4 linked regions of the Homo sapiens genome follow. The protein of the gene in region 4 purifies or fractionates together with the protein of the main gene of each other region. This does not show direct contact. Each region holds a gene or a part of one and is shown on either strand. Other genes may lie near its edges.

Region 1 (4,087 bases), on a different chromosome or scaffold from region 4:
GTCTATTACCTCTCTATGTACTCTAAACTGTGAGTTAAAAATGTAGTTTCCCTATTCTGTATATTTCTTAAATTTCTGTATTCAGTGCTTAGTCACTGCTCAAAGTCTTCTCTTCTCACCAAGCTATCAGAGGAAAATCTGTACCTTCTATTACAATGTGTTCAGAACCCCCCACATCCACTCAGATGCACACAGCTGTACTTTATACAGTGTTTTTCTTCTCTTTACCAGGGAATCATCTGTTTAAGAGAGGATAAATAATGAAATTATAGCTATATTTCTAGGGCTTAAGAAACATTTAAGGCAAATGCTTAAGTTCTCTAAAAATCACATGAAATATTTTTCTCTATTAATATTGCCATGTATAATAATAAACTCTGTAAGAGTTCTCTTAAAGACATGGCTGTATTATCTATCAATTATGGAAAAGTAAGCAGTTCACTCAGAAACCTGACAGCTTGCTGTGGTTTTGTCCCTTGAACACAGAAATGTGCATAGTGCTGGGGCCAGGAGTCACTCCTGTGCACTTCCCCTGGCTCCAGTCCTGAACTCTCCATCTTGGAGTCTAATTAAACTGACTTCATTCTAGAATAGGACAGAAAAAAAAGCAAAAAAAGGAGTTGTAAGCATTTCTTGGCATGTCAAGCATAAAAGTAATGCTAGGAACATCTACCATTCTATTCAGAATATCTGTACCTTGGCTTATGAAACATACATGGGAGAACAAGACACAGATATCCCACAGCTGCAACACCTCTGATAATCAAATATGCCTGCACACGCCCACACTCCTGCACACCACCACACGTAGACAGGGAGACACCATCATGGCCTGAGGCTGATGGAGAATTCATTTTGACCCCTGAACACTAATTTTAAGATTCATGTTTCTATCTCTCCTCTTCCTCCCACCTCTACCTTCTTCTTTACTACTCCTTGAAGAACTAAAACCAAAATGAAACCCTGAAAACCTATACAGGAGTGCCTGTATAGGTTTTATCCAGGGCTTAATTCTCCAGAAGAGTTAGAAATAGGTTGGTGCTGTAAGAATGAAAAGTGGGTAGGCTTTCCTGGAAAAATGTACACAAACTGCTTACCACCAGAGGGAAGCTTTCCTCCCCCTTTTAGCTTTAAAGGCTATAGTGTTACCCCTTCAAAATAGGGAGAAGAGAAGGGTTGATTCTGATTTTTCTTTCATTTTTAAGCTATAACATTTGCCTTTGAGATCATCAAATGTGATTTTCAACATTGCAGTGATATAAAATAACTGGGCCTGAACTCAGACAGACAATTCAAAACCTAAATGCAGATCTCACCAGTCACACTCCTCTTAGCTTTTAAAAAACAACTGAGATTTGACAAGTTATCCAATCAGAGAGGGTGATGTGCCACAAAACATACCAAACACAAGTGCCACCCACTTCCTTCCTCCCCTACCTTCAAACAAGAAGCAGGCACTTATTAGATGCTTAATAATAAAATGCTTTCACATGTGTTTTTCACATTTTGTTCATTTTCCACTCTGTATTTTGCTTGCATGAGAGTATTTCTGAAAATACTTTAATTTTGAATATCATACGAAACATAATAGAAGAATCAATAACAAAGGCTTCTATTTTAGATATTCTAGAAGGCATACTTGTACAAACAACTCTGACATTTTGAAAAATCGATTTTAAAACACACTCATAACGCATTAAGATACTTGCTTGCCCAGTTGTCTCTACACCCCAAGCGGCCACCTTTCCTCATTTAGGAATACAATTTAGGACAGCAATATGAGTGCATTTATGTGAAAGGAAGACTGTGTTAACCTTTGACTTACCTCACAGAACATATACAGAGACAGCAGTGTGAGTCCAAGGTTATACACCACTAAAATCCCCCGGCAAGAGAATGGCTGTTTATTCCTCATGTATTTTGGTCCCAGCCATACAATTAGTAAATATATGACAGAGCAGATAAATGTGGGTATATAATTGTCCAGAAGAAACCATCCTTTTACTCTAGTATCTGAAAAATTAAAAAAAATTAATGATATATAAAAACATTCACAACTTTTCAAACGTTGAAAAAATTTCTCTAACCATGATGATATAAAAGTCACCTGGTATTCATGTTCTTAATTCCAATAAAGCAATCAGGAGAGGAGGCATGGATTTTCAATACATATCAAACAAGGTGAAGCTCCTTGTTACATGCTCTGAATAACAATGTATTATTCATGATTTTTGCTCAGTAAAATAATAATACAAATATTCTTTCCAAAGAACTTAAGAAGAAAACAAGGAGAAGGCTACACTTCCCATTAATTGGATTTATTAACCAGGTATACCAGATTACACATAGGGTGATAAAACCCAAGAAATGGCAGTCATTGAACTCTGAAGTCCTCCATCTCAGCTGTGTGTCAGTCGGCAAGTGTGGCCAGCACATGCAGACTCAGAAAACGTGCTGCTTAGCCACGTTAGTGAAACTGGCACTAATTAGAAAGGCAGCCTTTGCTATGAGTGTAATGGTCAACAGCAGAGAGGACAATGATTTAAAAACAAAACAAGGGCTGGGTGTGGTGGCTCATGCCTGTAATCCCAGCACTTTGGGATGCCAAGGCGGGTGGATCACCTGAAGTCAGGAGTTCAAGACCAGCCTGGCCAACATGGCAAAACACTATCTCTACTAAAAATATAAAAATTGGCCAGGCATGGTGCTGCACACCTGTAATCCCAGCTACTTGGGAGGCTGAGGTGGGAGAATCGCTTGAAATTGGGAGGAAGAGGCTGCAGTGAGCTGAGATCGTACCACTGCACCCCAGCGTGGGCAACAGAGTGAGACTCCGTCTCAAAAATGAAAATAAAAACAAAACAAAACATGAAGGTGAAGCAGCAATGATCAGATAAATGCCTATTTAAAGGGCAGTATTTAACAAACTGAGGAGTAGTAGCATGAGAGCGAAGACCTAGGCGGATCCAGAGGAGATACTGGTATAGGAAGGGCCTCTCCTGCCCCTATTCCTTTTCTTAGGCAGGGAGGAGGGAGAGGGAAACAGGTCAGCCGCCAGCAGCAAACTGACAACCTCTTCTTGGATGGCGGGAAACTCCTTGGCAGCCAGAGCCCCTAAGTGTTATGTGTCCCCTGAAAGATTCAGCTTCATACTCTGGCTGACCCCAGGAAGCTACCTCTGAAAAGCATGCTCCCCTTTGAACCCTGCTATGATGTTCCCCGAAAACCTGTGGCTCCTCAATCTTAACTACCCGCCAAGGCTCACAACTCCAGAACATGAGGCACATGCAGCATTCACCTACTGCGTCTTCAGAGAAGCAGCAGTTGGGAGGACAGCCTTTGCCATTTCTTTAATTTTTTTATTATTCATTTATTTATTTATTCTGAGACGGAGTCTCACTCTGTCGCCCAGGCTGAAGTGCAGTGGCGTGATCTCAGCTCACTGCAACCTCTGCCTCTAGGGTCCAAGCGATTCTCCTGCCTTAGCCTCCAGAGTAGCTGGGACTATAGACACACACCACCACACCCCGCTAATTTTTGTAATTTTAGTAGAGACCAGGTTTCACCATATTGGTCAGGCTGGTCTGGAACTCCTGACCTCAGGGGACCCACCTGCCTTGGCCTCCCAAAGTACTGGGATTACAGGAGTGAACCACCACACCCGGCTCTGCCCTTTCTTTGACCCCTCCCAGACTGGACCATCTTGCTACTCTCTCCAGTCGTTTTCACCTTGATTTCACAGAACAAGAACAGGCTCAATAAAGCATATGTCCACGTGGGGAACTGTCAGTCAGTCTTCCTTTCTTGCACTGTACACACTAAACTTTCCCAGCATTTCTCTCATGGCTGGCTTGCTTTGGCTTCAGAGGGACATGCCCTCCACACCCTCCCCACTAGTTATGCTATGGTCACGGAGGGTGTTACTGTCAGTCCGGCAGAACTGGTTGTGCTTAGAAGTCATTCAGGGAAATGGCTGGCCCCAGGGACTTTAAGGGGATGCTTAACACCTTTTGTTCTCAGCTTTGGGCCTTGGCTGTCAATTTTAAGAAAACCAGTTCCCACTTAGCAACTAACATCAGACTGTTAT
Region 2 (4,087 bases), on a different chromosome or scaffold from region 4:
AAAGTTGAGAATCAATGTGATATATACATTAAAAAAATTACAAATTAAAGTCTGCTTTTACATATCTACTTTATATATTAGTAACAAAGAGAGAATTGTCTTTAACGAGTCTGCTAACAAAATACTCAAGTATGAAAATTCTAATGCTGCTAAATATCCAACATTGAAAGGATAAGTCCCCTTTAGTTCCAATTCCTGTAGCATGTTACCAATTGAACATACTTTAATCAGCAGTAAAAATCAACATTGAACCCCCTTTCTCCTGACTTAGTATATATGTTATGGGATTAAAACAAATTTAACTATTAATCTAAACAAGACATGATTAAGAATGTGTTATATACTGTCATTTTGAGGGTCAGATGCCAAAAAAAATATGTCTTTTGAACGATCAATATTCCACTAAAGTCTGGTAAGATAGTAAATCTTTTTCATTCCATCACTTCACCTCAAGTAGAACAATTTCTGGGATAAAGGAATGGAACTTAGATTTCTCCACTTCTATTTCCAGTTCTGTATTTGCTCTATTTACATGATCTAATACTACTACCTTCCCTTATGTACCTCTGAATGAGCTGCCAAAAACCCACTAATGTTCTACTTAATACTCATTAGTAAACTCATTCACAAAGTGACTGTTAAAAGGTTCTCCATTGCTGTCAGGTCGATTGAAGCTCTGCAAAAGCAAGGGCCCAGGCTTGCTCATACCATGTCCCCAATGCCAAGTACGATGCCTGGCACAGAGAAGGCATCCAATGAATATATGACGGATGCAAAAGTTTATTACGTCTTCAGATGTTGCTTAAAATGTGTTAAAATAAAATGCCAAGGTGCTTTTCTTTTAGGGTTGCCAATACAGTTGGAATCTAACTTAATATTTTTCATACTCTGCCTATCCTTTATAAAGGATTTGAGGAGGGCTTATAAGATTTAAAAACAATAAAATGCCAAAAGTTAAATAATAAAAAGTCAGGACCAGTGAAAATAGAATAAAGATGGTGTGTATGTTGGGATGGTGGTTGATGATGGACACAGGTATGCAGGCTGTATTTACATACATAGTAGTGAATAGCAGACTGGGCTCTGGGCTGCTCAGTAGCCTAGGCAAATAGGGGATGTTTTGTGTAGTTACACAGTGTATTACTTCGTTTTCACACTGCTGATAAAGACGTACCCAAAACGGGGAACAAAAAGAGATTTAATTGGACTTACAGTTCCATATGGCTGGGGAGACCTCAGAATCACGGCAGGAGGTGTAAGGCACTTCTTACAGGGCAGTGGGCAAGAGAAAAACGAGGAAGCAGCAAAAGCGGAAACCCCTGATAAACCCATCAGATCTCATGAGACTTATTCATTATTATGAGAATAGCATGGGAAAGACCGGCCCCCATGATTCAATTACCTTCCCCTGGGTCCCTTCCACAACACATGGGAATTCTGGGAGACACAATTCAAACTGAGATTTGGGTGGGGACATGGCCAAACCATATCATTCTGCCCTGGCCCCTCCAAATCTCACGTCATCACATTTCAAAACCAATTATGCCTTCCCAACAGTCCCCCAAAGTCTTAACTCATTTCAGCATTAACCCATATGTCCACAGTCCAAAGTCTCATCCGAGACAAGGCAAGTCCCTTCTGCCTATGAGCCTGTAAAATCAAAAGTAAGCTAGTTACTTCCCAGATACAATGGGAGTACAGGTATTGGGTAAGTACAGCTGTTCCAAATGGGAGAAATTGGCCAAAACAAGGGGGTTACAGGGCCCATGCAAGTCCAAAATCCAGTGGGGCAGTCAAATTTTTAAAGCTCCAAAATGACCTCCTTTGACTCCAGGTCTCACATCCAGGTCATGCTTAAGCAAGAGGTGGGTTCCCATGGTCTTGAGCAGCTCTGCCCCTGTAGATTTGCAGGGTACAGCCTCCCTCCTGGCTGCTTTCATGGGCCGGCGTTGAGTGTCTGAGGTTTTTCCAGGCACACGGTGCAAGCTGTCAGTGGATCTACCACTCTGGGGTATGGAGGACGGTGGCCCTCTTCTCGCAGCTCCACTAGGCAGTGCCCCAGTAGGGACTCTGTGTGGGGGCTCCAACCCCACATTTCCCTTCTGCACTGCCCTGGCAGAGGTTCTCCATGAGGGCCCTGCCCCGGTGGCAAACTTTTGCCTGGGCATCCAGGCGTTTCTATACATCTTCTGCAATCTAGGTAGAGGTTCCCAAATTTCCATTCTTGACTTCTGTGCACCCGCAGGCTCAACACCATGTGAAGCTACCATGGCTTGGGGCTTTCACCCTCTGAAGCCACAGCACTAGCTCTGCATTGGCCCCTTTCAGCCACGGCTGGAGCAGCTGGGACACAGGGTACCAAGTCCCTAGGCTGCACACAGCACAGGGCCCCTGCACCTGGCCCACAAAACCACTTTTTCCTCCTGGGCCTCCAGGCCTGCCATGAGAGAGGCTGCCATGAAGGTCTCCGACATTGCCTGGAGACATTTTCCCCCATGGTCTTCAGGATTAACATTAGGCTCCTTGCTACTTTTGAAAATTTCTGCAGCCAGCTTGAATTTCTCCTAAAAAAATGGGTCTTTCTTTTCTACTGCATTGTCAGGCTGCAAATTTTCTGAACTTTTATGCTCTGTTCCGCTTTTAAAATGGAATGCTTTTAAGAGCACCCAAGTCACTTCTTGAATTCTTTGCTGCTTAGAAATTTCTTACACCAGATACCCTAAATCATCTCTTTCAAGTTCAAAGTTCCACAAATCTCTAGGGCAGGGGCAAAATGCCTCTAGTACCTTTGCTAAAACATAAGAGGAGTCACCTTTCTCCAGTTCCCAACAAGTTCTTCATCTCCATCTGAGACCACCTCAGCCTGGATTTCGTTGTCCATATCACTATCCGCATTTTGTTCAAAGCCATTCAACAAGTCTCTAGGATGTTCCAAACTTTCCCACATTTTCCTGGCTTCTTCTGAGCCCTCCAAACTGTTCCAGCCTCTGCCTGTTGCCCAGTTCCAAAGTCGCTTCCACATTTTTGGGTATCTCTTCAGCAGCACCCCACTCTACTGGTACTAATTTATGGTACCAAGTTCATTTTCACGCTGCTGATAAAGACATACTCGAAACTGGGAACAAAAATAGGTTTAATTGGATTTACAGTTCCACATGGCTATGAGGCCTCAGAATCATGGCGGGAGGCATAAGGCACTTCTTACATGGTGGCAGCAAGAGAAAAATCAGAAAGAAGCAAAAGCAGAAACCCCTGATAAACCCCATCAGATCTCGTGAACTTACTCACTATCACGAGAATAGCATGGGAAAGATTGGCCCCCATGATTCAATTACCTCCCCCTGGATCCCTCCCACAACATGTGGGCATTCTGGGAGATAAAATTCAACTTGAGGTTTGGGTGGGGTCACGGCCAAACCATATCACATAGTTTTCACTGCCCACATGAAAACATACAAATTCATCAGAAAAGTAAATTTTGCTTTTTTTAGATACAGGGTCTCACTCTGTCACCCAGGCTGAAGTGCAGTGGTGCAATCATAGCAATCACTGCAGCCCCAAACTCCTTGGCTCAAGCGATCCTCCTGCCTCAGACTCCTGAGAAGCTGGAACTACAGGTGCATGCCACCACACCCAGCTAATTAAAAAAATGTTTTTTGTAGAAATAGGGTTTTGCTATGTTGCCCAGGCTGGTCTCAAACTCTTGGCCTCAAGTAATCCTCCTGCCTTGGCCTTCCAAAGCATTGAGATTACAGGCATGAGCTGCTGCACCTGGCCAGAAGTAAATATTTTATTGATATTTAGTTTTGACATAAAGTTCTCATGTGGGATTTCCTATTGTGAACAAATCCTCATTTGTTCCTATTGTGAACAAATCTCATGTGGGATTTCCTACTGTGTACTTGAAGAGGTATTTGACTCTATTTGAAATCCCACATGAGCACTTTATTTCAAAGCTGAAATAATTGGTCTAAAATAATTTGGTCTTTATATTCTTTATACACCTTTATACTCTTAAAAATTTTACTGAGGATACAATAGAGCTTTTGTTTACATCAGAGTTTCTCATCCTTGACACTACTGACAT
Region 3 (4,087 bases), on a different chromosome or scaffold from region 4:
ACAAATTTTTTTTGTTTTTCTTTTTCTTTTAATTTTTTTCTTTTTTTTTTTTTTTTTTTTTTTTGAGACAGAGTCTCACTCTGTTGCCCAGGCTGGAGTACAGTGTGGCTCAATCACAGCTCACTGCAGCCTCAACCTCCCCAGGCCTCAGGTGATCCTCCTACCTCAGCCTCCCGAGTAGCTGGGACTACAGTTACATGCCTCCACACCCGGCTAATTTTTGTATTTTTTGTAGAGACAGGGTTTCACCGTGTTGCCCAGGCTGGTCTAAAACTCCTGAGCTCAAACTATTTGCCCACATCAGCCTCCCAAAGTGTTGGGATAACAGGCATGAGCCACCATGCCCAGCCTCCAGTAGTATTTTTAAGACATTGATCCAAATGTCTTAAGTTCCTACTAAGTATTTAGTAAGCTCTCTTTAGATGTTTCTTTGTTTTTAGTTTTTAAAACTTCCCTTGATACCGTGAAAATTAGTGCAAGTATTGTTGTTAGCATTTATCAAGATCCATTTTGTTTTGAGACTGTATTGACTTCCATATCTTTTACATTTTCTAAATCAACATAAATGTTCTAATAATCTTGTTTGTTTTCTTTCTTTCCTATTACGTAAAATTTGCTTTGGCTTATTCCTACTCCCCTTCTAACCCATCTCAATAAATGGCACCACAAAAAACCTGGACACCATCTTTCTTGTCCCTCTTTTTGCCCACTCACATCCAGTCTGTTAGCAGATTCTTATGTCACTTCTACCTTGAAAATGTATTTTAAACCCATCCACTTTTTTCTATATCCACCCCCGCCCCCGCACCATCCTAGTCCCAGCCACCATGCTAGTCCCAGCCACCATCATTTCATACTTAGGCTGCTGCAGTACTTTCCTCAGTTATCTAAAGTTATTTGTTTCAGAATGCAACTTGACATGTAAAGAACCTTTTTAATGATTTATCCTTTGAATTTGTAATTCCCCTTCTACAAACTGCAGGAAATTATTTAAAACATAGTTAAACTTTATATACCAAGCTGCTTATTCACTTTGTGTTTATAATAGTGCACAATGGAACACTGCCTGAAAGTTCAAAAATAGAGGAATGGCTGTGTGAGTCATGCCAGAGCCACATGGTGAACCATTGTGTAGCAGCTACAGCTTGCCCGTGAAAATTCTGTAAAAACTTGGAGAAACATCTGTTGCCAGTGAAACAATCAGGATACATAAGTGTATATGCAATATGTCCACAACCCTGTTTAAAAAAAAAAATGAGGAGAAAATACCAAGATATATATAGCTACTCTTTGGGGTGGTGGGACTATAGATACTTTCACACCCTTTCGAATTTAATATCCTAACCTTGCTTTATTCTTTAAGGAAAATAAAGATTTTTTTCAAAGTACAATTTAAGAGATTCTTAATGTGGAAAATGGAGCAGACCTGTGTTTATATTTTAGCCCTGACTGACTAGCCATTTGCCTTTGAATAAGTTATTCTTTGAACTTATGTCACCTGTGAAAAGGAGTTACCATCCCTGCCTTATAAGGTATTAGATTAAATGAGAAGACATATTAAATACCTAGAACAGGGCTTGACATATAATGGGTACCCCCAAATGGTAATAGCTGTTATTCTTTAAGAAGGACTTGGAGAAAGAATTATAGTATTTCATTTCCTTTTAAATTACTTTTTGTTAACTCATCAAGATGCCTTGGAGATTTATTTCTTTATGCTGTTGATGTACTGTTTTTAAAAGCTTATTAAATCCTGAATTGTACTCTAGCTTAAGTATAGGCAGCAAAGAGAAGTTGTGGACCCTGTGGAGTCAGATTTTCCAGGTTTCACTCTAGCTCCGTTATTTGACTACTGTGTGGTCCTGAGCAAATCATTGTTTCTGTGTTTATTAAAATGGGATAATTGCAATGCTTGCCTCCAAAGGATTAGATGTTTGTCAGTTCAGTGCCTGGTGTAGAGTAAGCAATTAATGAATGTTAGCTGATTTTTAAAATTCTATCTGATATGGCCTGCTCTGAAATGTGAGACTTGTTCTCTGTTGCTGTATCCCCATCCTACCTTCCAACAATGGTGATTATAGCTAGATTCCTTTTGCTCACTCACAGTGTTTTACAAATCAAACTATAATAGTATTTTTATATTTCTTTTATTTTTACATATAACTAACCTGTAACCAAACTCAATGATTGTGTTACAGTTACCACATTTATCAGGCTCTGAAAGGAGCCTTATCTTGAGGAGCTCTATAGACTTTGCAAACTGTTGAAAACCCCTGTAATGTTCAAAGACTGTGTATTACCCCCTTCTGTAGTTACCACTGTATCGTTATTCAGATAAGAAATTTAAAAATAGATTTTGTAAGTTAAATTTTTAAAAGTGTGTTGCCCCCTCTAAAGAAAATACATTTTGGATTTATTTTTTATTGTTCCCGTATCTTCCCTCAGGAAAGTTTAGTGATAGTAAGTATTGCACCTTTAGAAAGAAAAGCAACCTCCAAATTGTAGCCTGAGGAGACATAAATAAAATACAGGTTGAATATTTCTTATCCAGGCGTGAGTCTTATCCAGGCCTGGCACCGTGGCTCACGCCTGTAATCCCAGCACTCTGGGAGGCCAAGGCGGGCGGATCAACTGAGGTTGGGAGTTTGCAACCAGCCTGACCAACATGGAGATACCCCGTCTCTACTAAAAATACAAAAAATTAGCCAGGTGTGGTGGTGCATGCCTGTAATCCCAGCTACTCGGGAGGCTGAGGCAGGAGAATCGCTTGAACCCAGGAGGCGGAAGTTGTGGTGAGCCAAGATCGTGCCATTGCACTCCAGCCTGGGCAACAAGAGCGAAACTCCGTCTCAACATAAATAAATAAATTAATTGATTAATTAATTTCTTATCCAAAATGCTTGAGACTAGAAGTGTTTTGGATTTTGGATTTTTTCAGATTTTGGAATATTTGCATTACACATTGAGGTTGAGCATCCCTAATCCAAAAATTTGAAATTTGAAATGTTCCAGTGAGCATTTCCTTTGACTGCCATGTTGGTGCTCAAAAAGTTTCAAATTTTGGAGCATTTGGGATTTCATTTCAAAGTTTTGGATTAGGGATACTCAATCAGTCCCTAGAACACAGTCCTTATCCCTCTCTTTTCCTTTAAGTTTTTAACTAGTTTTTTAAATTTATGAAGTCATCTGTTTCCTGCTCTAGAAAAAATAAATGCACACATTGTGAAATGCTTTAAATCAAAATTTTCTGTTTACCTATCAGCTATGGTTATCTCCTTATCCAGAGGAGCTTTCCTTATCCAAAGAACAAACAGGAAAAAAGAAATACATATTTCTGAGTTCTGGTTTAAGTGGGTAATGTGACAGTGATTGGATGACAAATTAGTCTTTAGAGACAAGGTCTTGCTCAGTCACACAGCTGGTGTGCAGTGGTGCAATCGTGGCTCACTGTAACCCTGAACTCCTGGGCTCAAGCGATCCTCCCACCCTAGCCTCCCAAGTAGCTGGAACAACAGTTATGTGCCACCATGCCTGACTAATTTTTAAGAAAATATTTTGTAGAGGCAGGGGTCTCACTGTGTTTCCCAGGCTGGTCTCCCAACTACTGGCCTCAAGTGAGCCTCCCAAAGTGCTGGGATTACAGGTGGGAGCCACTGCGCCTGGCCTTTAGTCTTTTCAAAAGCCGCAGTAAACTGTACCAACTTGATTCTTGCAGTTATCTTGACCCAACATGCTGGAATCATCCTTGTTAACTCTTTTTCTCTCAATACCAATCAGTCAAGAGATTGTGTTAGTTCTGCTTTCACAATGTATCCAGAGTCCATCTGCTGCTCACCTTCCACCACTAACCACCGTGGTCTCATTAATGCTTACCTGGAATATTGCAGTAACTTCCTTACTGGTTTCTCCACTTCTACTCTCATTTTCCTATAATCTCTCAACTCAGCAGACAGTATGGGCCTGTTAACGCATAAATCAGATTATGTCATGCTTCTGCTCAGAACCCTTCAGTGGCTCCCCATTGCTTACCTGGCCCCAGCCGTACTGAGCTTCTTGCTGTTCCATAGATCTACCCTGTGTGCTCCCA
Region 4 (4,950 bases):
TGCGTCCCCAGAGTTTGAAACAGCATCTGCGTGGATCAGTCTGTGTGTGCCTGCAGCATGGAACTTGTGTAGAGGGGCTTCCTCACCAGCCACAGGGGCTGGCCCACATGGCTGCCCTTTTCTTTCCCCTCTGAAACCAGTCCTCACATCCCAGCACCCATTCTTCGGCCCCACCAACGGCCCGCACTGAGTGTGGACACGGCACTGGACCCTGCTGCCGAGGACAGGACAGTGCCCTGCCCAACAGGCTCCCAGGACAGGGAGGAGGGTGCCCAAGAGCCCAGGAAGACCGCCTGGAGGCTGCAGGGCCTTCAGAGGGGACCCCCTGGCCCACTGGCAGGAAAGGCTTGCTGGTCTCTCTCTGTGGGGGAAGAGGCAGCCCCGCAGGTGCCCAGTTCTGCCGGGAAGAGTTTTTTTAAAAAGGAGAATAAGAAGCTATGGCCGGGCTGGACGTTGTGGCTCACGCCTGTCATCCCAGCACTTTGGGAGGCTGAGGTGGGTGGATCACCTGAGGTCGGGAATTCGAGACCAGCCTGAGCAACGTGGAGAAACCTCATCTCTACTAAAAAAAAAAAAAAAAAAAAAATTAGCCGGGCGTGGTGGCACACACCTGTAATCCCAGCTACTTGGGAGGCTGAGGCAGGAGAATCGCTTGAACCCAGGAGGTGGAGGTTGCATGAGCAGGAGGCAGAGGTTGCATGAGCAGAGATCGCGTGACTGCACTCCAGCCTGGGTGACAGAGCGAGACTCCATCTCAAAAACTAAATAAATAATAAAAAGCAGCCATGGCTGTGTGCTGGGCAAGGATCCCATTCCAATCCAGTTTCACCAGGAAGAAGCTGATCACAGCATCAGGCTCTCAGCTCACTGCAGCCTCAAACTCCTGGGCTCAAGCCATCCTTCCTCCTCAGCCTCCTGAGTAGCTGGGACTACAGGCACTGCAACCATGTCCTGGTAATTTTTTTTTTTTTTTTTTTTTTTTGAGACGGAGTCTCGCTCTGTCGCCCAGGCTGGAGTGCAGTGGCGGGATCTCGGCTCACTGCAAGCTCCGCCTCCCGGGTTCACGCCATTCTCCTGCCTCAGCCTCCCAAGTAGCTGGGACTACAGGCGCCCGCCACTACGCCCGGCTAATTTTTTGTATTTTTAGTAGAGACAGGGTTTCACCGTTTTAGCCGGGATGGTCTCGATCTCCTAACCTCGTGATCCGCCCGCCTCGGCCTCCCAAAGTGCTGGGATTACAGGCGTGAGCCACCGCGCCCGGCCGTCCCGGTAATTTTTTAAAATTATTTTTTGTAGGCCGGGCACGGTGGCTCATGCCTGTAATCCCAGCACTTTGGGAGGCCGAGGCGGGTGGATCACGAGGTCAGGAGATCGAGACCATCCTAGCCAACATGGTAAAACCCTGTCTCGACTAAAAAAAATTAGCTGGGTGTGGTGGCATGTGCCTGTAATCCCAGCTACTCAGCAGGCTGAGGCATGTGAATTGCTTGAACCGAGGAGGCGGAGGTTGCAGTGAGCCGAGGTTGTGCCACTGCACTCCAGCCTGGTGACAGAGCGAGACTCTATCTAAATATATATATATATATATATATATATAATATTTTGTAGAGACAGGGTCTCGCTACATTGCCCAGGCTGGTCTTGAACTCCTGGGCTCACGCAATCTTCCCTCCTCAGCCTCCCAAAGTGCTGGGATTACAGGAGTGAGCCACTGTGCCCGGCCCCAGAGGAGGGTTATTTATCACCCCCAAGACCTCAACAAGTCACTAGAAGCAAAAGGACAGGCTGTCAGTGCCTGGTTGGCCAGACTGGGGCCACTGGGGGCCAGAGGCCGTTGGAGGCTGGCTGCAAGGGACATTTGCCTTCACCCCCTCCTGCACCCTGAGCCAAAGATTGCCCCCAAGGCCCTCAGGGAGATCTGGCAGATCCCTTGACCAGAGGCCAGCATGGGGCTGAGAGAACTGCGCAGTGGGGAAGGGGGAGGGGGCTGCCTAGAACCACCCCCCTCAACCCAATCTCAGCATTGAGGTGTGGGGTGGCACCAGGGGCAGGGGTGGGTGTGAACCCAGCCCAGGGACTTCCCTTAGGACTTCAGGGCTGGGGACATCTCCAACCTCAGGGCAAGGCCACTTGGCATGGCTCACCTGGGACAGTAAGGGGCTCCTCTCCCCCTCCTCCATCCTTGACGCTGGAACAGAAAGCCCCCAGCACAGGCGCCGGGAGAGGTTCGCTGGCTCCTCTGTGGCTGGGCTGCTGGGCTGGTCCTGACTGCGGCCCTGGGCTAGTCTGTGAACAGTGCAGCCCTGGGCATGGGAATGGGGGAGGTGCGAGCCCTACCCAGATGCCGGAGTCACAGTTGAGTCATGTGAAGAATCACATTTTAGAGCTTAAGGAGGCCTCTGCTTGTGGAGATATATTTCTCCCCAGCCCTGGCTCTGTGGGTCCCCTAAGCTCAGCGCAGGTGTGACTCAGGCAGGCATGTTTGGGTGCCAGCCTTGTGGCTCTCACTGCAGCCCCCCATGCGGACTTCAGCTCTGCAGGGTCAGCAGCCGCTCCATCAGCTCCCAACCAGGGAATCAGACCCTGGTAAATTGGTTCACAACCCCAATCCCAAGAGACCCATGGGCAGCCCCAGCGCCAATCTATCCCCCGGCTTGTTCACTGCACGAATGAAACAGCGTCCCCCCACCAGATCACCTCCTTGTTTTTGTTTTTGAGACTGAGTTTCGCTCTTGTTGCCCAGGCTGGAGTGCAATGGCGCAATCTCGGCTCACTGCAACCTCGCCTCCCGGGACTACAGATGTACGCCACCTTGCCTCACTCATTTTTGAATTTTTTTTGTAGAGACAGGGTTCTGCTGTGCTGCCCAGGCTGGTCTTGAACCCCTGGACTCAAGTGATTCTCCTGCCTTGGCCTTCCAAAGTGCTGGGATTACAGGCTGGAGCCACTGTGCCCGGACTCAGCCACCAACACTCAGCAGTCCAAAGAGGTGGTCTGGGTGGTGCAGCACAGCAGGCAATGTACTGATGGAGCAGGCAGAGGGTTTCAGGCGCGCGTGAGACGCCTGGGTGGGAGCACACCGGGCAAGTTTTAGGAGGAAAGGTCACCTGGCTGTGTGGGGCAAGCGGAGATGGGGGTGGGAGGGAGGTCCATGAGGTGACAGGGCTGGATCAGGTGAGGCCTTGAAGGCCACTCTGAGTCTTCAGATCTTCCTCGGAGAAGTGGGATATGCTGCAGGTGGGAAGTCGGGGCGAGGACCAGAGCTGCAGGCTGAGCTTCTGGGCTCCAGCTTCCCTTCACCTCCCCAAAGGTGACAAACCCAACCTCATGGGCCCTGCAGCAGCTCCACAGCCAGGGTCACGGTCACAGGGACTGTCCACGGCCTCCAACTCAGTCTGTTCTAAGGATGGGTAACCTTTTTTTTTTTGAGACAAGAGTCTCGCTCTGTTGCTGAGGCTGGAATGCAGTGGCACGATTTTGACTCACCGCAACCTCTGCCTCCTGGGTTCAAGCGATGCTCCTGCCTTGGCCTCCTGAGTAACTAGGATTGCAGGCGCCACACCTGACTGATTTTGTATTTTTAGTAGAGATGGGGTTTCACCATGTTGGCCAGTCTGGTCTCGACCTCCTGACCTCAAGTGATCTGCCCGCCTCCTCCTCCCAAAGTGCTGGGATTACAGGCGTGAGCCACCACGCCCGGCCAAAGTCTGGGTAATCTTTTAATGAAACGATCATCATCTACCACTGTTATGGCTGAATTGTGCCCCTTACATTCTTATGATAAAGTTCTAGCCCCCCGGACCTCAGAATGGGACTTGGAGACAGGGCCTTTAAAGGCCATTAGGGGCTGGGCGCGGTAGCTCACACCTGTAATTCCAGCACTTAGGGAGGCCGAGGCAGGTGGATCATGAGGTCAGGAGATTGAGACCAGCCTGGCCAACATGGTGTGACCCTGTCTCTACTAAAAGTACAAAAAATTAGCTGGGCATCGTGGCGCATGCCTGTAATCCCAGCTACATGGGAGGCTGAGGCAGGGGAATTGCTGGGACCCAGGAGGCAGAGGTTGCAGTGAGCCGAGATGGTGCCGCTGCACTCCAGCCTGGTGACAGAGCAAGACTCCATCCCTAAATAAATAAATAAGTGCCATTAGCGTGGGCCCTAATCCAACATCCTTACAAGAAAATTGGGACACACGGTGGGACACATGGAGAGACACGAGGAATGTGTGCACAGAAGAAAAAACATGTGAGGTCTCGGGGAGAAGGTGCCATCTTCGAGCTAAGGAGAGAGGTATAAGAAGAAACCTGGCTGGGTACAGCGGCTTATGCCTGTAATCTAAGCACTTTGGGAGGCTGAGGTGGGTGGATTGATTGAACCTAGTAGTAGTTAGAGACCAGCCTGGGCAACATAGCAAGATCCCATCTCTACTAAAAATACAAAAAGTTAGCCAGGTGTGATTGTGAGCACTTGTGGTCCCAGCTACTGAGGAGGCTGAGGTGGGAGTATCACCTGAGCCTGGGAAGTCGAGGCTACAGTGAGCCACGATTGTGCCACTGCACTCCAGCCTCGGCGATGGGAGTGAGACCCCAGTCTTTTCTTTTTTTTTTTTTTTTGAGACGGAGTCTTGCTCTGTCGCCCAGGCTGGAGCGCAGTGGCGTGATCTCGGCTCACTGCAAGCTCTGCCTCCCGGGTTCACGCCATTCTCCTGCCTCAGCCTCCCGAGTAGCTGGGACTACAGGCACCCGCCACCACGCCCGGCTAATTTTTTTTTTATTTTTAATAGAGACAGGGTTTCACCATATTAGCCAGGATGGTCTCGATCTCCTGACTTCGTGATCCACCTGCCTCGGCCTCTCAAAGTGCTGGGATGACAGGCGTGAGCCACCGCGCTGGGATGACAGGCATGAGCCACCGTGCTGGGATGACAGGCGTGAGCCACCGCGCTGGGAT

Evidence for each region.
Region 1: the proteins of TSPAN10 (region 4) and ELOVL5 purify together in Homo sapiens (affinity purification with mass spectrometry; one large-scale study listed by BioGRID and IntAct). This does not show direct contact.
Region 2: the proteins of TSPAN10 (region 4) and ALG11 purify together in Homo sapiens (affinity purification with mass spectrometry; one large-scale study listed by BioGRID and IntAct). This does not show direct contact.
Region 3: the proteins of TSPAN10 (region 4) and VEZT purify together in Homo sapiens (affinity purification with mass spectrometry; one large-scale study listed by BioGRID and IntAct). This does not show direct contact.

The regions. Positions count from the first base shown.
Region 1 is NC_000006.12:53,289,951-53,294,037, forward strand, and holds part of ELOVL5 (very long chain fatty acid elongase 5), read right to left. Parts: intron 2,014-4,087; coding exon 1,826-2,013; intron 1-1,825. UniProt on the Homo sapiens protein: Catalyzes the first and rate-limiting reaction of the four reactions that constitute the long-chain fatty acids elongation cycle.
Region 2 is NC_000013.11:52,014,811-52,018,897, reverse strand, and holds part of ALG11 (GDP-Man:Man(3)GlcNAc(2)-PP-Dol alpha-1,2-mannosyltransferase), read right to left. Parts: intron 1-4,087. UniProt on the Homo sapiens protein: GDP-Man:Man(3)GlcNAc(2)-PP-Dol alpha-1,2-mannosyltransferase that operates in the biosynthetic pathway of dolichol-linked oligosaccharides, the glycan precursors employed in protein asparagine (N)-glycosylation.
Region 3 is NC_000012.12:95,276,220-95,280,306, forward strand, and holds part of VEZT (vezatin), read left to right. Parts: intron 1-4,087. UniProt on the Homo sapiens protein: Plays a pivotal role in the establishment of adherens junctions and their maintenance in adult life.
Region 4 is NC_000017.11:81,639,643-81,644,592, reverse strand, and holds part of TSPAN10 (tetraspanin-10), read right to left. Parts: intron 2,334-4,950; exon of another isoform or gene 2,287-2,333; 5' UTR 2,181-2,286; coding exon 2,145-2,180; intron 1-2,144. UniProt on the Homo sapiens protein: Part of TspanC8 subgroup, composed of 6 members that interact with the transmembrane metalloprotease ADAM10.